Regions from separate parts of the Homo sapiens genome. Here regions 2, 3 and 4 are each linked to region 1. The links come from fine-mapping of genetic effects on gene expression. A gene starts in region 1. Each other region holds a variant in brackets. All regions are shown on one strand. Distances are from middle to middle.

What was found. PIP is the estimated chance that this variant, and not a neighbour inherited with it, causes the effect. A credible set is the group of variants that fine-mapping cannot tell apart.
Region 2: its variant is the best candidate, but not a certain one, in a credible set for the expression of TLR4 in tibial artery (GTEx, PIP 0.59).
Region 3: its variant is the best candidate, but not a certain one, in a credible set for the expression of TLR4 in whole blood (TOPMed, PIP 0.53).
Region 4: its variant is the best candidate, but not a certain one, in a credible set for the expression of TLR4 in tibial nerve (GTEx, PIP 0.88).

What each region holds. Positions count from the first base shown.
Region 1 is chr9:117,701,744-117,707,605 of GRCh38, forward strand. TLR4 (toll like receptor 4) reads left to right here and starts at 2,660. Exons shown (of 3, transcript NM_138554.5): 1 at 2,660-2,822. The coding sequence starts at 2,730. RefSeq lists enhancers at 2,082-3,281, 2,229-2,729, 2,630-2,679, 2,690-2,759, 2,730-3,230 and 1 more.
Region 2 is chr9:117,662,765-117,668,626 of GRCh38, forward strand. No RefSeq gene overlaps it. Among named protein-coding and RNA genes, the nearest start is that of TLR4, 39 kb to the right of the region's middle. The variant A/G (reference allele first, on the strand shown) is at 2,357.
Region 3 is chr9:117,669,340-117,675,201 of GRCh38, forward strand. No RefSeq gene overlaps it. Among named protein-coding and RNA genes, the nearest start is that of TLR4, 32 kb to the right of the region's middle. The variant G/A (reference allele first, on the strand shown) is at 2,526.
Region 4 is chr9:117,676,553-117,682,414 of GRCh38, forward strand. No RefSeq gene overlaps it. Among named protein-coding and RNA genes, the nearest start is that of TLR4, 25 kb to the right of the region's middle. The variant C/T (reference allele first, on the strand shown) is at 2,433.

The sequences.
Region 1 (5,862 bases):
GGCACAAGCTTTTATTGTTGTTACTGCAGAAAAGGCAAGGCAAGGCAGGGTAAGCAGGGATAGGACTGGCTAGTTTGAATAACCTCAGTGGGCTCTGGGGTAGAGGGTCTGTCTCTAGTTGTCTGGTACCTGGACCTGTGATGATTAGGGCTGAATAACGGTGTCTACTTGGGTGTAAAAGCCAGGTAGAGGAGGTGGTTCAGAGGAAGGGCTCTGGATTGCTTAGTGTGCATAAGGCATGCTCCAGAGCAAATCTTTTGCTATTTTTTAGAACTAACTAGCCCTGGTAAGTGCAGTCTCTTCCCAGATGCCAGAACATCAAGAACACAGAAAAGAAGACAATTGGGTTAATACATGTTTAGCATGAGAAATGAGGAAGTAAGGGAAATAAAGTCAAAGAGATTTCCACCTTGGATGACTATGTCAAAGTGAAACACCATTAACTTTCCAGGGAACTAAACTTTATTGAGCACCTACTCTGTGTCAGGCACTGCTCTAAAATCTTTACATGAATAATCTCAATACTCAGAGCAAAGCTTTGACATGGAGGTTGTTTTTATCTTAACTCTACTGGTGTGTTGATGGAGTCTACAAGAGTTTGTGCCCAGTCCACCACAAAATGGTCCCTCACAGCTTGGTTTTTGACACGTTGGATTGGAAGTGCTTGGAGGATATTACAGTAGAACTATCTAGGACTTAGCATGCATAATATTCCTGTTTTAAATCAGGTTCTTATTTAACAGAAACTTACATTGCACTTGCTACTTTCCAGACACTGTCCTAAAAGCTTTACAAATGCCAGTTCATTTAATCCCAATACAATACTTTGAGATACATATTATCATCTTCATTCTATCCACATTTTCAATCCTCATCATAGCTCTCATTTATGGAATGTAATGATGATGCTCTAGACTAGACGTTTTACGTAAGTTAGCTTAATTCAGTAATTCAAAACACATGCGATTATCTTCGTTTTAAAGACCAGAAAACTAAAGGTTGGTAGGTTTGTATAATTTGACTACCATTGCGTATCTTTATTTTAATACATTTTATAAATGCAAGCTTCTGCTATGATTAAAAGTGATTACCACATTTTACAGACCAGAAAGTAATAATAAGTGTTGGTGAAGATGTGAAAAAATGAGAACTCCTGTACACCATTTGTGGGAATGTAAAATGGTACAGATGCTGTGGAGAATCATATGGTGGGTGCTCAAAAAATTAAAAATAGATTTACCACATGATCCAGCAATCTCACTTCTGAGTACGTATCCAAAAGAATTGAAAACAGAGACTTTAAGAGATATTTGTACAACCATGTTTATGGCAGCATTATTCACAATAGCTAACGTGTGGCAACAATGCAAGTGTCCATGAACAGACAAATGGATAAGCAAAATGTGGTCTATACATACAATGGAATATTGTTCAGCTTTAAAAAGGAAGGAGGCTTTGATCTATACTACACAGAAAAGAACCTTGAGGACATTATGCAAAGTGAAATAAGCCAGTGACAAAAAGATACATACTGTATGATTCCACTTCTAAGAGCTGCCTAGAGTAGTCAAGATTATAGAGACAAAAGTAGTGCATAGATTCAAGGGCCTAGGGAAAGGGGAAATGGGGAGTTATTTATTAATGAATAGTGGTGATGATTGTACAAAAATATGAACATAATTAATGCCACTAAATTGTACACATACAAATGGTCAAGATAATAAATTTTATGTTATGTCATGTTATGTTATGTGATTTTACCATAATACAGAAAATGAAAAAAGAAAAGAAAGAAAGTAAAGCTTAGCGGTTTACATGACTTGACCAATGCCTCAAAGCCATGAGTCACCCAGCTGAGATCTGAACTTCAGTATATTCCATTCTGAAATCCCAGACTTTTCCCAATCTTCTTGTACTTTTCAAACTGTGTTTCAGTTGAGGTTTATTTTCAGTTTTGTATGTGAGTTTCTTCACAAGAAGGGGCGGGCCAAATTGTGTCCTGCAAAAACCTACATATCGAAGTCCTAACCCCTCTACCTCAGACTATGACTGTATATGGAGAGAGAGCCTTGAAAGAGGTATGTAAGGTAGAATGAGGTCATTATGGTGGGCCCTAATCCAACATAACTGGTGTCCTTATAAGAAGGGGAGATTAGAATTCAGACACACTTGCTGACACCTTGAGTTCAGACTGGAAGCCTCTAGAATTGTGAGAAAATGAATGTCTGTTGTTTAAGCCACCCAGTCTGTGGTATTTCCTTATGGCAGCCCCAGCAAACTAATACAAATAGTGTTTCCACAGCTGAAACAAAATTGGAAAATCACCGTCATCCTAGAGAGTTACAAGGGCTATTTTAATAGAACCTGATTGTTTTCCTAAATTCACCAAGCCCAGGCAGAGGTCAGATGACTAATTGGGATAAAAGCCAACTAGCTTCCTCTTGCTGTTTCTTTAGCCACTGGTCTGCAGGCGTTTTCTTCTTCTAACTTCCTCTCCTGTGACAAAAGAGATAACTATTAGAGAAACAAAAGTCCAGAATGCTAAGGTTGCCGCTTTCACTTCCTCTCACCCTTTAGCCCAGAACTGCTTTGAATACACCAATTGCTGTGGGGCGGCTCGAGGAAGAGAAGACACCAGTGCCTCAGAAACTGCTCGGTCAGACGGTGATAGCGAGCCACGCATTCACAGGGCCACTGCTGCTCACAGAAGCAGTGAGGATGATGCCAGGATGATGTCTGCCTCGCGCCTGGCTGGGACTCTGATCCCAGCCATGGCCTTCCTCTCCTGCGTGAGACCAGAAAGCTGGGAGCCCTGCGTGGAGGTATGTGGCTGGAGTCAGCTCCTCTGAACTTTCCCTCACTTCTGCCCAGAACTTCTCACTGTGTGCCCTGGTTTGTTTATTTTTGCAAAAAAAAAAAAGAGTTAAATTACCTTAAAGACTCAAGAAGCCACAGAGATCAAATAATTCATTGTTACAGGGCACTAGAGGCAGCCATTGGGGGTTTGTTCCATTTGGAAATTTTGAGTGCTAACAGGGGCATGAGATAACATAGATCTGCTTAAGGTCCCTGCTCTGCTACCTTGTGGCTCTGTGAAGAAATTATCAAACCTGTCTGAGACTAGTTTTCGCATCTGTAAGAGAATTATAATACCTTCTTCACTAGAGAGTAAGCAGACTGCTTCAGTGTCATTTCTTCCCACTGGTGGTCTTTACACTCAGCTTCAAGCAGTCACCCTGCTCCTTTCAATCTCAGGAAAAAGATGGCTTTTGTGTGTGTGTCTCTAGAGAAAGAACTTTCTAAGTGGGTGTCAGACTTCTGTATGCAGTAATATAGTTTAGTCCAGAGGATGAAAAAAATAAGAGAATGAAAAAGGAAAAGAGAGAGAGAGAGAAGAAAAAAGCAAGAGGGAAATATGTATAATGTCAGCTAATGCAACAGTTTCTTTCTTAGTGAAATACCAATCAGCTGGTTGGTAATCTTATTCATGATGGATCTCTTTTGTTTTTCCCCTGCGCAGACTTCACAGTTGCTTTAGAAACCCATAGTAGAGCCGAACAGCTAAGAAAATGATTTACAGTGAGGCAGGGTCAGAAACTCAAGAGAGAAAAAGCCAGCTGCAGTCCTGAAGTTGAGGATATAGGAGAAAATCAAGTAATATTTAGCAAAGACTAATTCATTATCTTGAAGCCATCCCTTCCCTCAATTCCCTGCCCATAGTCCTCCTCCTTGTCCTCTTCTCTGTATCCCTCTGCTGTTAGGTTAATGGAGATAGATTTTCTAATTAGGCTCACTGCGAGATAAAACCACAGCCAAACTTGACTTCTTTTCCCCATGTACCTTTTCCTGTCAGTCCCTGAAGCCTGTCCATCCCTGCCCATCCCCTTAGTTCCACTGTAAGGCAGGCCCTCATTTCCCCTGGCATTGACTCTTACACACTAACTGCTTTCCTGATTCCAGTCTTCTTCCTTTAATTCATTCTGCACGTTCTTGTTTGTTATGTACTTGCATTTGTTGTTATTATTTTTCCTTAGGCTTCAATCTAACAAATTACTCTCCTTAAAAACTTTTAATAACTCTCCATTGCCATTAGAACAGCTTTCTACCACAGGGCCTTTGCACTGGCTATTTCTTCTACCTAGAATGCTAGATCAGTGCTATCCATTGGCAATATTATGTGAGCCACATATGTACTTTTAAAGTTTTTAGTAGCCTCATTAAAAAAAGAAACAAGTGAATTTAATTTCGATAATAGTTTTATTTAACTTAGCGTATTTAAAATAATGTTTAAAATTTTAATATATATTTACCTATTATTGATATTTTTACATTCCTTGTTTGGTACTAAGTCTGGAATTTAGTATATGTTTTACATTTACCACACTTCTCAATTTACACTATTCACATTTCTTGTGTTTGATAACTGTGTATGGCTAGTGACTACCGTATTGGTCAGTGCAGCCCAAGTCCTTTTCATGCTTTAATCACTCCATTCAGATCTCTGATTAAATGTCCCCTCCTCAGGGCAGTCTTCCTTGATTGCCCCATGTAGAGCTCTCCAGCCTCACTTATTTGCCTCAAATCCCCTTATACTGCTTAATATTTTTTTTTCTAGAGCACAACATTTTATATTTTTGTTTGTTTATTTTCTCTCTCTCCCTTTGTAATGGAATCGGTAAGGAGGCAGGATCATTGCTGGTTTTATTTACCACTATATTTCCAGTGGCCAGCACACAGTAGCCGCTAGATGTGTAAGTGATAAATGATTGAAATAATTGCTGCAGGACAAAGTCTGAGGCCCTCCTGATCTGGCTTGCCCTCTTACTTAGATTTCACCACTCCCACCACTCACCAGCTAATCTGAGTTTGTTTTCCACTCTTTACGTGCTCACGTTGTCCTCTCCTTAGGACATGTTTTTCTTCCCCTTTCCACATATCTAAACCTTACTCATCTTCCAAGACCCACTTTAAAATCTTCCTTTTCTGGGAAGCCTTTCCTGAATCCAGACTTGATCTCTGCTTTCTCTGAACCACAGGGCATATTTTCTAAGCCTATTTTATGGCCCCTTGAGATAGTGTTAGCTTTGCTCCTATCTAAACTCTTACTCTAGACTGTGAGTCCATTGAAGTCTGGAGCTGCATCATATTTTTCTTTGTAATGCCCACAGCACTTGGCAGGAAATGCCTACAATTTGGACTTAAGTAAACCTTCATTTAATCAGTTATTCAATCAGTTAGTGATTCAGCAAATATTTATTGAGCACCAACCATTTGCCAGACACCATTCTGAGTGCTGGAGACAAAGCAGTGGGCAAACCCATCAAACTTGCAATGGAATACAGGAGATGAACAATACGATGAGAACAATCAGATAGACAACATAATGTTAGATGGTTGTGCTTCCCGTGAAAGGGAATAAAAGAGGGCAAAGAAAGAGTGCCTGGCACTGTTTCTATTAGACAATATTGTCTTTGAGGCTCCATGGCTTGCAACATTTAAGCAGACATACGAATGAAGATCTGCATGTTTGAACTCTGACTTTGCGCATATTACTTCATTTCTTTGAATTTCCATTTTCCTCATCTTTAAATGCTTATTTGAAGATTAAGTGAAAGTATATAACAAACAAGAACTATGCAGGCATATGGTAAGGGATTAATGATAGATGATAATAATTAATGTTGACATCTATTGATCACTTATACTGTAGCGGGCTTTTAAATAAACTCTTTAAACACCTTATCTCATTTAATCCTTCAAACATTCTATTGGTTTCAAACAACAGAAAACTACAATTAGCTGGCTTCTGCAAGGAATTTTGTTGGAGGAAATGAGAGCATTCAGAAATTAGATGGGAGCGTT
Region 2 (5,862 bases), 39 kb before region 1:
TACCCCTGTGGAGCTGACTTGGAAGCCGTGAGTTGCAGACATTGATTTGCTGACCCTTAATCTGGGTGCAATCAAACAGAACACCCTGGTATGTGGCTTATGCACTCACTTGGTTCAGCTAAGGACAAGGACCTAAGTCCAGGTCACTTCCCCTGGCTCTAACACATCATACCCTGATTTACCTGTAAAAGCAAGTGCTTCTAGGGCAGCGACTTACAAACTAGGTTTCTGAGGAGGTAGCTTTGAGTTAGCCTGGGCGGAGGCAGGGGAAGGACTTCTTTGGGTCCCACATGATCTATCTTAGGCAGAACAGTTTTGATTATATTTATTTGCTATATATTTGGCTTCTCTTAAAAAGATAATTTAAAAAATTATTCTTGGGCTCATTTATTTATGTTTGGAAACAACCCTTTAGGGTAATTGTTTTGCTCTTTTATCTTCCTAATCCTTTCCTTGCACTCTTAAATATGGTGACCCTAGGATTTCTCCATAGCTGTATTAGTCCATTCTCACACTGCAATAAGGAAATACCCGAGACAGGGTAATTTATAAAGGAAAGAGGTATAATTGACTCACAGTTCTACATGGCTGGGGAGGCCTCAGGAAGCTTACAATCATGGTGGAAGGGGAAGCGAGGACCTTCTTCACATGGCAGCAGGAGAGAGAAGAGCTAGAAAGAGCAGGGAAACTCCTTATAAAACCATCAGATCTTGTGAGAGCTCACTCACTATTATGAAAACAGCATGGGGGAACCCACCCACCATGATACAATTGCCTCCCACAGGGTCTCTCCCGTGACACTTGGGGATTCTGGGGATTACAATCCAAGATGAGATTTGGGTGGGGACACAACCAAATCATATCAATAGCTATTTGTTTTATTTCTCCTAACGTAGAGTTGATGTGGAGGGTTGGCTTGTTAGGGGTGGAAAGGCAGTATTCCCTACCTCATGATCTCTGTCAATGCCCTTCTAAGCCACCCCGTCATATACAGCCTAATCAAGGGCTTCATAGATTTTAATGTGTGCACAACGGGTTATTTTATTAAAATGAGATTCTGATTCAATAGGTTGGAATGAAACCTGAGATTCTAACAAGCTCTGTGATGATGCTAATGCTGCTAGTGTGTGGACCACCCTTTGAGTCAAGAGGGCCTAGGTAAATGTAATGTGTTCAATACAAAAACACAACCTCAAGACAAATTCCTCTTTACCCCATTGCTAATCTAATTGTGGCTCCTATGTAGAAAACCTGGAGTTGCTACTGTTTCTTCACACTACGTTGCCTGGTATGAATCTTTCCCTATTCTGCCTACAATCAGGCCAGCAGATCTGAGTAGTGGGGGGAATACCTTGATACCAATCACTTGGATTTTTTCTTTTTTGTAACTGAAATTGGCAGGGGGTGTGGGACGGGAATCGCTATATGACAGACACCATAGCAGGCACTCACCATACAATATCACGTCTAATATTTTACATTTTGTAGGTACATGTATAAGAGCCATGTCCTGTTTAAGGAAACTGAAGTGATAGAGCTTAAGCTATAGAAATGGCTCAGTTCACTTTGTGCTGCTATAACTAACACCACCACCTGGGTAAGTTATAAAGAACAGAATTTATTCCTCATAGTTCTGGAGGCTGGGAAGTTCAAGGTCAAGGTGCTGGCATCTGATGAGGACCTTCTTACTGCATCGTCATATAGTGGAAGGCAAAAGGGAAAGAAAGAGCAAACCCACTTCCAGAGCCTCAAAAACATCATTATTCTGCTCCCTTTCCATCCAATAATGTAAATAGGCTGTGTCTTTTGTAAAAGTATTTTGGGAAAACAATCTCCTAGAATGACTCAGCAAAAATCAGCCTTTTGAAACTTTTATCATTCACTCATCTCTTTTCATCACCAACTCCATCCAATTAGTTTTTGCATCCTAGGGATCCTTCAATTCTCTCACTTGAGTGGTTTCAGTATTCAACTAACTGGGACCATGCCTGCTGTCTTGGCCACCACAAATTCATCCTGCATGCTATTATTAAATAAGATTTTCCAAAGATCTTTGTGTACTCTTCTCCTGAGACTCCTTCAATGACTCTCCATTACATACAAAATGAAATACAAGTTCTCTCACCTGGTATTTAATGTCCTCTATGACCTGGCCTCAGCCAATGTCTTCTGCCTTGTGTTTTAAATAATCATTACACAGTTACATTACAGCCATACCAGGATATTTGCCACTGGAAAATACAACATAAACTATATTAGTTAGGGGTCTCCAGGGACACAGAACTGATAAAATGTGTGTGTGTGTGTGTGTGTGTGTGTGTGTGTGTGTACAGAGAAAGATTTATTTTAAGAAATT[A/G]TATCATTGTGGGGCTGGTGAGTTTGAAATCTGAAGGGCAGGATAATAGGTGGGAGACTCAAGGAAAAGTTGATATTGTAGCTCTGTTTGGAAAGTCTACTTGGAAAATCTGGAAGCAGGATTTCCTCTTACTTAGGGGTCATTTGCCTTTTCCTCTTGAGGCCTTCAGCTGATTGGACGAGGCCCAGCCACATTATGGAGGGTAATCTGCTTTACTCAAAGTCTACTGATTTAAATGTTAATCTCACCTAAAATTATCTTTATAATAACATGTAGATTAGTATTTTACCAATAATTTGGGTACCATGGCTGAGCCAAGTTGACAGGACATATAAAATTAACCATCATTTGAACATCCACACTGCTGGGCCTGGAATGACATTCCCACTGCCATAAGGTATTTCTAGGTTGTCCAAATAAAACATATTTCCTTTATGGTTTTCCCTGCTACTCTTTGCATGTACAGCCAATGTAGTATTTTCCCTAGTTTGCCTTGTTTTGATCTAAACTATGTACATACGGGCTTCTTACTCAGATCATGGGCAAGTTTCTATGGGCTATAGGTGTGCATCTCCAGAGTGTTCACTGCAAGTGCATTACATTGGTCTGAACCTCCAAAAGTACACAAGAAATTAGTGTAGGCTGATTTCTTTGTTTCTATAGAGGTAGTGAATTGCACTGGGTGTTGCTTGTAGGAAAAGACTTCCTGGCTGAAATTCTAGCCCTGATACTTACTGTGCAACTTCAGGCAAGTGACTTAACCTCTCTGTTCCTCACATCTATTCTCTCATTTTGATTATTGTGAGGAATAAATGCATTAATACATTTAAGCATCTTAGAACAGTGCTTGACATATGGTAAATGTTCAGTAAATATTAACTGATAGTATTATCTTTATGGATATATGCTTCCAAATGTTGGAGTGGAGAATGGTGTTCTGCCTATTAAGAGTTCTCAAGATAGGAGATGCCCATTATTTGGAATCTTAGACCCTAAGAGTAGACAAAGACTTTATTGCTGCTTAAGTGCTGAAGGTCATAAATTCCTTGAAAATCCAGTGAAGGCTGTGTATAGACACACCTCATTTTATTGCACTTCATTTTATTGTGATTCACAGATTTTGCTTTTTTTTTTTTTTTACATATTCAAGGTTTGTGGCAATCCTGCATTGAATAAGCTTCTGAGCACCATTTTTCCAACAGCATGATGTGCTTACATCCTATCTCAGTGTCATCATGTTTTAGCAATAAAATATTTTTAAATTAAGGTATGTACATTGTTTTTTCAGACATGATGCTCTTTTTTTTTTTAAACAAATTCAAGGTGTGTGGCAATCCTGCATTGAATGAGCCTATGAGCACCATTTTTCCAACAGCATGATGTGCTTACTTCCTATCTCAGTGTAGTCATCTTTTAGCAATAAAGTATTTTTAAATTAAGGTATGTACATTGGTTTTTCAGACATGATGCTCTTGCACAGTTAATAGACTATAGTATAGTGTCAACATAAGTTGTATATGCACTGGGTATCCAAAAAGTTTTTGTGACTTGCTTTATTGCAATATTTGCTTTATTGTCATTGTCTAGAACTGAACCCACAATGTCTCCAATGTATGCCTGTGCTCTTTCCCCAGAAAAAATGCATGTGTATACATATAATTACTACACACAATTTTAAGAATTCACAGGGCATACCTCCCCATCCGTAAACACTTTAGGGATACATGTTAAGAATCCATAGTGTCAGCCGGGCGCGGTGGCTCACGCCCGTAATCCCAGCACTTTGGGAGGCCGAAGAGGGCAGATCGCAATGTCAGGAGATCGAGACCATCCTGGGTAACATGATAAAACCCTGTCTCTACTAAAAAATACAAAAATTAGCTGGGCTTGGTAGGGCATGCCTGTAATTCCAGCTACTCAGGAGGCTGAGGCAGGAGAATCACTTGAACCTGGTAGGTGGAGGTTGCAGTAAGCCAAGATCACACCACTGCACTCCAGCCTGGGAGACAGAGCAAGACTCTAGCACAGTGGTTGCCAATGTAATACTCAATGCTGAATGAATACATTGAGTCGAAAGGGTGTACCTCTCACTAAGGACTTCACCCATATCCAAGGAACTGTTCTGAAATTGTTCGTCCTGCAATAGTAATGAGATAAAATAAACTAAAGATCCCTTCTCCAAAGAGCCATATTAAGAAGATGAAGAGACACAGACCAGACTCAAGAGAGGCAATGGGTTCTGAGAACCTAAAAGAAAAAGTGTGCTCTTGGGCTCCACTGACCTGGGATCAAAGCCCAGCTCACCTATGATATCTTCTGAAGAACATCTAGCCTCTTAGAGATTTCGTTTCCTCGTTTGTAAAACATGAATGGTACTTTCCTGGAAAAGGTTTTCCAAAACTTAAAGGAGAAAATACAAGAAGCACAATGCACAATGTTAGTAGCAATGACATCAAACACAAGTCGTGGAAACAAGGATAAAAGTGATTTATGCTTTGTGTAGTCACTGCCAGGAGCATCAGAAATGCACAAATCCCTGTGCGCTTGTGATTGTTGAATGTAGCCCTGCCCACCCTGAAAAATGGTAGCAACCGCCATGGGGTCTTTCTTTTTCTTTTCCTTTTTTTTGGAGACAGAGTCTCACTCTGTTTCCTGGGCTGGAGTGCAGTGGCACATCTCGGCTCACTGCAACCTCCATCTCCTGGGTTCAAGCAATTCTTGTGCCTCAGCCTCCCCAGTAGCTGGGATTACACACGTGCACCACCATGCCCAGCTACTTTTTTTATTTTTAGTAGAGACAGGGTTTTGCCATATTGGCCAGGCTGGTCTCCAGCTCCTGACCTCAAGTGATCCTCCCGCCTGGGCCTCCCAAAGTGCTAGGATTACAGGCATGAGCCACCATGCCTGGCTCCCATGGTCTTGGGCAAACCAACAGAGAGTATGTGTCAGGGGCTTATGGAGTATCTCATAAGGCACCATAGTTTGTAAAAATCAAAGCACAGTTGTTTCAAAATCCTAACTACATATTAGAATCACCTGGGAGCTTTAATGAAAAGGGGATTTACAGGCTCTCCTCAGATTCAGAATCTGCCTGTTAGTACACTTTCAGCAAGAATATCAAATTGAGGCCGGGCGCAGTGGTTCACGCTTGTAATCACAAACACCTTGGGAGGCCGAGGCAGGCAGATCATCTGAGGTCAGGAGTTCGAGACCAGCCTGGCCAACATGGTGAAACGCCGTCTCTACTAAAAATACAAAAATTAGCCAGGAGTGGTGGCAGGTGCCTGTAGTCCCAGCTACTTGGGAGGCTGAGGCAGGCAGGAGAGTCGCTTGACCCCAGGAGGTGGAGGTTGTAGTGAGCCGAAATCGCGCCGCTGCCCTCCAACCTGGGAGACACAGAGTGAGACTCAGTCTCAAAAAAAGAAAAAGAATATCAAATCGAGTCCATTACTCCCCTGTGTTAACCTTATCCCTAAAGATCTTGTGAATTCTACATCTGTGACACT
Region 3 (5,862 bases), 32 kb before region 1:
AGAAGCAATTTTATGACATAAGGAAGAAAAAAAAAAAGAAGAAATTGCTCCAAGAAATATAATGGCAAAAGATGGTTTAGATAAAGGTGTGCTCAGTAGCTGTGTGCAAAAATGTTTGAAAAACTGCAGATGAAAAGAATAGAGTGATACAAATAGCCAGGCTTGATGAGAACAGAGGACACCAGCATCCCAAACCATGAGCCTCATCGCTGGCAAGACCAGGATTGAATCCATCCTTAAGTCTTAGGCATATAGTACCCCTTACGATGCTGTCTCTAGAGAGCATATCTATTTACATGTCACAAAAATAGGAATGCAAAATAATTTATTTGGGAATATGGAAAAGTTGACCTTTAAACCATCAAAGTAAAATAAAGAACACCTGAAGTGAATTAAAATGGCATCGCCTCCCAGAACTGTTTTCACCCAATTTATACCTTTATTTACCTACTGCAAACGTGCTAAATGAGAGCCAGTTACAATACCCATTAAAGAGGGTCCTAAAGTAATTCTTTTAAATTGGTTCTAATGGCCTTAAAAAAATACCCACTGTATTTTAGAGGAGTAAAGTAAGAATGACAGGGAGAGAAATGTTAGTGCTACTTTTATCCACTTTGCTTTCTAGAGCAACTTCGACCTTTGGAAGGGGAGGATGGTGAGTAGGGTGTTAGTTACATCATAATTATGCAGAGCTCCTAGTGTAATTTTGAGAATTAAAGGAGATCATGTATGTGGAGCATCTATCACAGGGATTGAAGCGTAGATAATGAACAATATAGGGCATTTTCCTTTTTTGTCTATTCAAACTGTAAAAAAAAAAAAAAAGAATATTCTTCATACAGACCCTAATGATCCATGAAGAAAGGATCTTCATGTCAAAAGAGGACTTGGAAATGGTAGCAAAGACCCAAGAGAAAACTTACTTACCCTTATTAAGAGAAAAATATTTGGGGAATTAATTATAGCACTTGAAATAAAGTTTAAGAAAGAATAGGGTGGTTTAGATTTCAAATGCATGTAATACAATGGGGCTTTTATTTATAGAATGAATTTTCTCTTTGAAGCCTGATTTTTCCACCTCATTTTCCAGTATATTGTCTTTTAATTATTCTCTTAGGGGCAGTCATGAGGCCCTTTGCACAAAATCCCCCAAATTATATCCAAAATTTAATACAGTGCTTGGCACATAGCAGATGCTTAGTAAATATTGATAAGAAATTATTGCTAGATTATACAGAGAGGGTTTTCATAAGTGTGCAGCAGCTTACGAGGCAGGAAATAGAATGTCTATGGTCACTACTGATTTAGGCGTGAAAACAGGGAAGGCTTTGTGAATTAAAGAGATAACTTTTTTATACAAACATTTTATCAATCTGTCTATAATTTTTATCTTTTGTATCAACTCGTATTTGCCAAATATCTACCATGTACTAGGCACTGTACTGGCTGCTAGGGGTAGGTTTATGGGATTTGTGGAAAGAAAACAGTAATTAAGGCTTGGTCTGGATTTTTTTGTGTGTGAGACTGAGTCTCATTCTGTTGCCCAGGCTGGAGTGCAGTGGCATGATCTTGGCTTACAGCAACCTCCTCCTCCCAAGTTCAAGTTATTCTCATGCCTCAGCCTCCCGAGTAGCTGGGACTACAAGCGTGACCCAACACGCCCAGCTAATTTTTGGATTTTTAGTAGAGGTGGGGTTTCACCATGTTGGCCAGGCTGTTCTCAAACTTCTAACATCAGGTGATCCACCCGCTTCGGCCTCCTAAGATCTGGCTTTAATGAAAATGAGGCGGTGTAATATACACTAATAGCTTCATGTAGGTAAACAAGACAAAACCAAATGTGGGAGAGGATGGGATGCATTAGCCATGAGGAGCATGGATGTTTCATATGACCTTTCATTCTCATTTATTCCAAAAGTGTATGCACGTTTTCTGATTATAAAATCATATTAACCCACTGTAAATAATTTAAACAATATATCTTAAACTATGTGATGGGTTCGCATGTACCTATGACAATTTCTCTTTATTATTTCAAAATTATACTTATAGATTATATATATACTTTGTATTATGATGTATTTAATTTTTTTAAGTTTTAGAAAAATAATTCAAACAGTTTAGAAAAGTACAGAGAAGAAATTCTGTCAATCACGTAAATGTCAATTGCTAATACTATGTTGAAAATCCTCTGAAATCTATTATTTCTTATGGGTACTCTTGTACTCCTCCATTTCTTTCACTGCACCTAAACACATACATGCATACACACACACATACACACACATGCACACACACACACAGAGAACATTTTGTATAAATGAGATCATACTGTCCATGCTTCCTGTGGTCTGCTTTTTTCACTTGACAAGATATTATCTCTCTATGTCCATAAATGTAGAATCCTAGTGTCCTTTTGATGAACACTCACTTTCTCCCTGTATGAGCAAAGATTGTGCTTTAATTAATATGTGCCATAGGATGGATATCTAAATTGTTTTCAGATGTTCATGTGTGTATATGTA[G/A]GTGTGTGTGCATGTGTGTGAATGCATGTTTTAATTTTCTAAAGAATTTATGATGATATTATTGCATAGATATCTTTGGAACTTGGCTATGAGTCATCATAGGATTAATTTCTAGAAGAAAGTTTTCTTTGTTTTTATTTTCTGCCCTTTTTGAAATAATACTTTTTCTATTTTGTAGGTTTTTTTTTTTTTCCTAAGAAAAGGACACTCTAGACCCAGCACTGGGTGATAACACACAATTTGACTTGTTTGAGATATATTCAACTTCATCATTTGTTACTGTGGTTTTCATGAATAAAATTTCATGATTGCTTTTCTTTACATAAAAATTAACCAAATATTTGCAGTGCCATTAGTTGAAATTAAATTAATGTAAACAAATTTTTAATTTTCATGAAGTTGATGTTTCTTACATTTTTCTTAAAAATAAAATTTTGCAGATCTCAACTTACTCCATTTTTTTTCAGAGAGATTTAGCAATTATTACTTGGAACTAGGGAAAGAGATGGCTCCTTTACAAGGACAATTTTGATTAGGTAGAGAAGGTAAGGTTTATAAACTTATGCAATCCATGATTTTAGGCTCCATCCTTCCTGTGGTTTATTCTTGAATCACCCAGATTTACTTCAGGCCTCTTTCAAAGACCTCCTCTTACATAATCTCCCTTTTGTGTTTATTAAATGATTCAGGTCAAAACATTGACCAAGATGATTCAGGTCAAACAAGGATGTGTTATGTCCTTGAGCCAAGCCCCATCTTCTCTTTCCTCCTCCACATTTTTGCCTAGAAATATCTACTGTGACCTAGGAAGATAAGGTATTCAAAGAATGCCCTGAAATGACTCATGACCACTAAGAAATAAAAAGCCCTAATATATTAAAAATTGCGATACAAAAAAAAAAGGTCTGGTATACATTGGCATCAATAGACATTCAGGACAAAATAACTTTTGATTTGCTATTAGAAGGAGGAAAGAAAATATGGACATCTTTCTTTATTTGTAAAATCACCGTGGATATCTTAGAGCATTGTTAGAGTGACTATAACAAAATCATTCATTTGAAGCACAAAGTGTATAAGCTACATTAACTCCGTTCTTCCCACTTTCCATTGATAGTGTGTTTATGATCATTAATAGCAGTTCTGTGACTTGAATTGTGTCCACCCCCCAGATTTATATGTTCAAACCCTAACCCTTATGTGATGGTATTTGGAGGCAAGGCCTTTGGGAGATGATTAGGTTTTGACAAGGTCATGAGGGTGGGGCCTTCACAATGGGATGACTGCTCTTGTTTAAGAAAAGTCACCCCAGAGCTTGCTCTCTGATTCTCTCTCTCTCCCCTCTATGTGAGGACACAGTGAGAAGGTCGTTGCCCAGAATGCAAGCACAATGCCCTCCCCGGAAATCAATTATATTGGCACCTTGGCCTTGGAAAAAACTGTGAAAAAATAAATTTCTGTTATTTAAGACACCCAATTTATGATTTTTTTAATGTGAGCTCGAGCTGCTTAAGACAGTAGAAGTAGTATCTTAATTTCCAGCATCTGCTTCATCACTTTTTCTTCTTTTCTCCTCTGCTGCTTCCTCCTCCTCCTCCTCCTTCTCCTCCTTCTTCTTCAAGTTTGTTTCCCCTTTCTTGCTTTTCTCCTTTTCTCCTTTTATTTCACATTAACGACTGTTTTAGTTCTTATCACTGTTGTTTTTCTTCACTCATTTATTTCATTCTTTTTACTTTTTTTCTTATGATTTCATCATATTCACCTTTGTTTCCCTTTTTCCACATTTCTTTTTATCATTCTCATTTCCCTTCATGTTTGTCTTTCCTGTGATTTAATTCCTTCATCATTCTTCTCTCTTCCTCATTTTTTTCCTTTCTTTTTCTCTCCTTCACTTCCTCTTTCTCTTCTTTGTCCTCCTTTTTTTTCTTTCTCTTCTTCCATGTTTCCATATTTTTCCTCCTCTCCTGGCCCAGCCTATTTCACCATCCTCACGTCTTCTTCATTTCTTGTCTCATCTGTTCTGTTTCTTGTGTCCAGAAGGAGCACCAGTGCTTCCCTTTCATCTTTTTTCTGCTAAGATGCCTCTAGGAGTGGATGTATTGTATAAGCAAAGGTGCAAAACAGCAGGAAGACAGATGATGAGCAGCCCGCCCTCAGGAAAACTCTCAATATAAAGAAACAGCTCAATCCAACCTCTCTGCCCTGTCTTTTTTCTTCTTTATTTTTTTCTTTTTAATTAAAATGCCTGCATTTGAAACTTTTTTGCTTTCTTCAAAAAAGTTTTGCTGACATTCCTCAAGAGGAAAGATAATGGGCACAAGGTATTTTCCAGCCTAGCAATGAACAGTACAGAGAATGAAAAAAGACACGAATAACAAAAAGAAAGCGTAAATTTAATCACCATTGTCATTTTATCATTGGTATTATGAAAAATAACAATCTATCATGTATTGAAGTTCTCTGTATATGCCAGACACACACATCATTTCATTTAATTTCCATGATATTCCTATGAATTAGACATAATTAGTATACCTGTTTTGCACAATGAAAATCTAGGCTGAGGGGATTAGAATTGGCCCAAGATTTGCATGCAGGGCCAATTGGGGCTGGTTAGGACAGTGCCACTTTTATGGAGCTTCCAATATTTGTGAGGCAACATGATGTATTAAATCATGCAGACCTGGTTTAAATTCTGATTCCATCAGTTTCTAGTCCTAGACCATATATATGCATTGTCTGAGTAAATTTTCACAATTATCTGTTAAGTTAATTATATTACCCCCATTTTACAGGTGGGGAACCTTATGTTCAGAGGGCATAGGCAACTTGTCCAACATCACACAGCTGTAACTCCAAAATGTAAATGTTATGTACTACATCGAGGTGGGTTTAAGGACTAATATAATTTCTTAGGCAAAAAAGGCAGAGGAAATTCTCCAGGGATGGAGAAGGGAAGCTGTAGTTGAAACACGAAAACAGGGAAGACATGAGCATGGTACTTATAAGACAGTGAAGATATGAGCATGGCACTTACAGGACAGTTAAGACACTGATCTTTCTGGCTTGTTCTTGCTTACAAACTTGTGTGGTGACTTATCTTTGTAAGTTGAAATTTCTTTATATTTAAAATGAATATTTCTAAATATAATAACACCTGTCCCTATAATTGTTACATATATCAAATTTTACACAGCCAGAAAAAATAAAGTAAAATGCAATACGTAAAATAAAAGAAACACTAGCAAAATTTTTCCAAGTATTGTAGCATATGTGGCAGACTTGCATCAATGAGATGAGATTGTATTTCCTTCTTGTTTTTTCTTCAATATTTTCC
Region 4 (5,862 bases), 25 kb before region 1:
ACTACTCATGAGAGTTTAGGGCAAATCCTTTAACTTCTTTCATCCTTAGTTATTTTTTAACATTAAAATTTAAGCATTACTCCTTGTTCCTTTTTTCCTTTAGACAGTTCTTCTGAAGACTATATTATTTGAAGACTACTAAAGCACATTTAAAATAGAAATATATCATCTAGAATTACAGGTAGTAATTATATCTTCCAATTAAAAGGAATTAGAGGTGACTGTTTATTTCAAGCACATTCACAAACAACTAATTAAGCCATATTATAGGTCAAACAACCTTCTCTAGATTTGATATATGATAGATGATGATGATGAAGTTAATAGCCAACTTTGGAGTTTTTACCATTTTCCAGGACTGTTCTAATTCCTTTACGTGTATGAACTACCTTTATCTTGCAAAGAACCTTGTATTGGTGATACTACTCTTGTCATCTTTGTAGGTGAGAAAGTAGAAGCATTAATAAGAAATTTGTCCAAGGCCTCATACCCAGTAAGAGATGAATACAGAATCAGGATTCAAACCCAGGCAATCTGAATCTAGTGTTACAAGACTAACATTGAAAGAAAATATGGAAATAACATTGAATACAAAGTCATTTTAAAGCTACTTTAAAATTTTTAATTAAGTATACTATAAATATTTCTTTGATAAAGATTTATCAGTTCATTGATAAATGAACTGCTTTATGTTCATTGACCATCGTTAAAGACTTTGGAGACTTATAAATAAAACCTAGGGAAAGAAAATTGAAGGAGGAACATATATTTACCAAAGGTAAACAAGATTTGGAAGAGGAAGGGGTGGGGGCCAATGGAGATAATTAACATGCTCATGAACATATGAGAATTTATTAGCTAGCTATTGTTTCAATAATGATGCATAAAAAACCACCCCCCAAGTCTCAATGGTCTACAATGAATATTTATTTCTCCCTCACAGTTATCCAGGTCAATTAGGAAGCTTTAGTTCAAGCTATGGGTTGATTTTGATTGGCTCCATCTATCTTTTATTCCAGAACTTGAGTTTAAGGAACAGTGCCTCTAAGGGTGTATTCTTATGGTACAGGGCAGAAGTGCAAGAGACAAAGCTAAACAACACAAGCCAGTGCAAAGCTTATGGTTGCAATGGTTTAATTTTCATTCACATACATTTTATTGGCCAAGCAAGTCACATGGCCAAACCCCAAGTTGTCAGAGTGAAAAAGCTATAATCCATCCTCAGAGAACAATGCAAATATTAAAGGGGAAGGAAAACCATGTTCCAATAATACACTCAGGAAGTTCATCTGAAGTTTAAATAACTAAACCCTACTTAGTGAAAGGCAATGTAACTATCATTACTGGAGGAGGTAAGAAAAATTTTGATAGGAGAAAATATTAAACTTAATGGATAAACACATCACCACTGGGTGGTACTCATATCCCAGGACAGCTTTGTGAAGAATAGATCTGTATTAGGATGGTCAGAAGAATAAATTTTTAATACAACATTTACAAGTTGAATTTTTATAACACAAGCTGTGAATACATTTTCATTTCTACTTCATTATGTTAAAATGTGTAAAGTAATTAAAACAGTGCCTCAAACTAAATAATGCTATGAGTGTTTGCTACAATGATGGATAATGATGGTGTTGATGATGATGTCAAAGTTGTAGGGCATATTGCTCTTTGTATATTTCATTTCTCCTGAATTAACTCAGCAACAGGTTATGTAAGATAACCCAGAATCCTTATACCCTAGTGAAGGCACAATACCTTTCTTCAGGTTGCAGGTCCCAGGATCAAAAGACAAAAAGTAATATCTTCTGGTAGTACCAGACATTTTTAGTAACAGGATTTTTCTCTAAAGAATTAAAAATAAGCTACAAAGAGGTTTTGGGATTTAATGAGAAATGTGCAAGAAAGATTTGTTTCTTTTCCACCCACATTCAGTTTTAACTGCCAAGTATATATTGTGGTTGGGAATACTTTCTACATAAAGGGACAAAGTTTAGGAGAGAAATTGGTCCTTAAAATATTGGCAAAAATATGGCTAGGAATGACCCAATCTGGGAAGGGTTCATTATGTGCAGCTACATAACAGATAATCTTCTAATTAATTTATTCAAGCAAGGTAATATCTTAAAAAAGTTGTGCAAATCTTAAAAATATTCAAATTAAGTAGTTAATGTCAAAAATATTTAGCCAAATATTTTTGTTCCTGAGTGATCCACACATAGCAAGAAAAGAAAATACTTTTTTTTTAAAAAAGCAAATAACTAAATATCAAGTAACTGATAGCACTAGGGGAAAAAACAGAATTCTTGGGATAGCAAGGGATCTATTCATCATATTCCCTTTCTATTTGGAATACTAAAGGAGAATTTGTTTGGAAAAAGAATACCTTTCCAACTCCCTATTGTCATAGTTTGGGATTAAAGCCAGTA[C/T]GGTCTGTTCTTTATGAATGTGTCTAATCATAAAAGTATCCCAGAATCTGAGAATGTTTGCACTAGCAGCCCTTGATGACCAACCTGAGACAATGAGGTGAGAGAGTTTATGTTACTTTCTCAAGTTCACTGTTAGTGGGTAACCTGGCAGGGACAAATGACTCAGATCTTTTTATGCTAAGTCCAGGGTTCAGTTTATATGGTTTTGTCTCTCAACTGCTTATCTTTGAGAAGAATTAGCTTATGTTATTGTTTTCCTTGTCAGCAGAATGGAAGCATTGGATTAGATCAGTGGCTTTGCCGAGATTTTCCCTTCCACTTGGTTACTAAGATCCACTTCTTTAGAATCATTCTTCATAGGAAAAAAATGTTTCTTCTCCATTTTTGATTACTTTGTGCAGCAATTTCAAAGACTTACCAATCAAAGAAATCAAGGAAGGTATTGGATAGGAAAACTTTTGAGGGTTCCACATATAGCAGTTTCAACAATAATCAGATGTATTTCCTACTGGTCCTTTTTGCATTCAAGAATGATTATTTTTCTGAAAGAAAAAATTTGTTCTGAAATTTCTCAGAGAGCTGAGCTTTGGAAGGCATTCCATTTAGGAAGATGGAGTCATATCCTTCCTGTTGCATTTAGATAAATGTGGCTAATAGACAACTTTTTAACACATGCTTTCTGGCACGTAAATCAGCACTTCCAGGTTTGAATCTCAGGGATTCGTACTTTCAATTGTTGCCAAATATTCAACATTTGGCTCTCTTGATCTTTAGTATTAAACTTTTTTTGACTCCATCTTCTTTCTTTCAGCCACTGTTTTCATTATCTAAAAACAGACACTTAAAGAAATTAGTGATAATCAGTCTTTTCATAAAGCTGAAAAAGGCCTGAGATATTGTTTGGTTTCACTTTCAAGAGTGGTTAAATAACTGCTCAAGACTTCCATATGAATAATTTCTCCATTTGCAAGTTTTTATCTTTAACTTCTTCTTGGTTTTCTCAATGCCACAAAACCTTCTTAGTGACAGGTATTGGGAAAGACAAACTCTTTAGGCCTTCCTTCTTCCTTTGAGGACCAAAGACCATTTCACTTTTAATCATTTTATATATTGTCTCAACACTGCCTGCCTCTTTATTAACCACCTCTGTGAAATCTATTGCTATTAATCATCAAACACATGTCTGAGTATTACTGGCAATTATCTCTGAATGCTTGTTACCTGTTGGTTTTATTACTTGTTTTCTCCTAGAAGAATAGATTGTTTCAGGTCCATAACTCTGTTTTATGTGTATGCATTTGTGTGTATGTTTATATTATTAAATGTAATATACATTACATTTTAATTTATATTTTAAATTTAATTATATATTAAAAGTAATGGCAAAACTGCAATTACTTTTGCACCAACCTAATATTCTTACATTTTAAAATTTTTCTTTTAGATCTCAACTATCATTGCATGAGGTAAAACAATATTTCAACCAAGGATTACTAACACTTTGTTGCCTATGAACGTACATTCTTCCTGTTGCGTATGAAGGCAGAAAGTCAGTTACAATCTATGATTCCCCTCCATTTCATGTTATATCTACTGCAACAATTTTTTGAAGTCTTCCATAAGCTCCTTGATTTTATTCCTCCAGAAATAAGAAGAATGTGCATCTTGGAGTTTGTTTTATTTTAATTTATTAGATACTTGGGGAAATCAGAAATGAAAGAAGCAAAAATATGTAATCATTACTTTTTCAGTCTGTTTTTCTTTTCTTTTCTTTTTTTCACCCTTTAGACACTAGAGATAACTTGTTCACTCTCTATTCTTCTAAGGGTAACTACACAACAGAAGGCTGTATACTCTCACTTTTGGTTGGGTTGGAGTAGAAATATAATTTCTGTGTCTTAATGGTATTTTACTCATAAATGGTGCCTGAGGTGTACTAAGCATAGAAGAACAAATGAAATAAATGCTTATTCTTCTCTGAGGAGGATATTGTACTATAGTGGAAGAGGGCCTATTATCAAAGAACTTTCAGAGATATGGTTAGGAGAAAAAAAGGGATGAAAAGAAAGAAACTTATATTTGTTGCATGTCTACATGTACTATTTTATTTAATCTTTCCAACAATAGCTCTTACGTATAGATTTCAATAAATCAGAGAATTTGCTCAAGGATGCTCAGATGGTAAGTAACAGAATTGGTATCTAATGAAGGTCTTTCTGAATTCAAAGTCTACTGCCTCAAGATAAGGTACTGTGTATAGAAAATGTATACATGTAAAAATTAAAAGAAACATAGAGAATGTTCTTCTAGTACTCAGAAGAGGAGTTTTGATACTTGTAGATGGGTTATTTAGAAAAAGCTTTATGGAATGACCTTGAAACTGGATAACATGTAGAATGAAAAGATCTAAGTAACTCTAGTTTGTGCTCTTGTGTACACATGCATTGGAATTTTCTGAAAATTCTCTAGGCTTCAGTTTTCCATTGGAGTTTCTGAAGTCTATGGTTTATTTTAGTGTTAATTGCTTAGGAACAAGGAGCATAGGCTTCTGTGAAGATGTGTTGTCTTGCTTTTGAGATGTTGCCTGGAATAAGTACTGTTAATGCATGCACACAGTTATTTAAACTACTTGTTATTCTAGGAAGATGTTTTTTCTTTGCTTTGCTGAAGACCTCTCCTATTGAATATTTGAAAGATGTTTAGTTTCCAAGATATTTCTACTACTAATTTATCCATTTAGTCAGTATCGATTTATTGGGTGCATCCTTCCATACCTAGCACTGTCCTGTCTACTCTGGGATTTGCAGAAATGCACTGTGGGAAATAATAGGCATGGTCCCATTTATCAAAGATCTTATAATTTACTCTGAGTTATAACGACTGCAGCTTATATTTATTGATTTTGCTATGTGTCCAGAACAATTCTAAGCAGAGTTCCAGATTTGTTATCTCATTTAATCTCATACTGTATGAGGAAACTACTGTTCACTCTACAGAAGAAGGTCAGGCACAGAGAGGCTTACTAACATCACTGAAGCCACTTGGTTAGTAAGCGGAAAAGTGGTAATCCAAATTGCACAAGTGAGAAGAGTTGATATAAGTATTTAGTACTGCTGCAAGATAACGGACATTACAAAAGAGAATCAGAAGAATACAGATGAAGGAGATTAAAAAATCAACTCAGGATGAGGAAGTGGAAGCCCATTATCCTCACTGACACAGTAAATAGTGTTAGAGCCTGAACTAGAACCAAGATTTAAGACCTTATTTTGTACAGTTGGCTGATTGTAGCACTTCACAAGCTATGATATAATTTGCTAACCAGTGGTAGAATTAAGAAGTTCTGTGCAAATAGAAAATATCTCAAAAATCTCTGACCAAAAGCCTATACTTACCCGTTTCAGAGGAGATGAGAGATATATTATGAGTG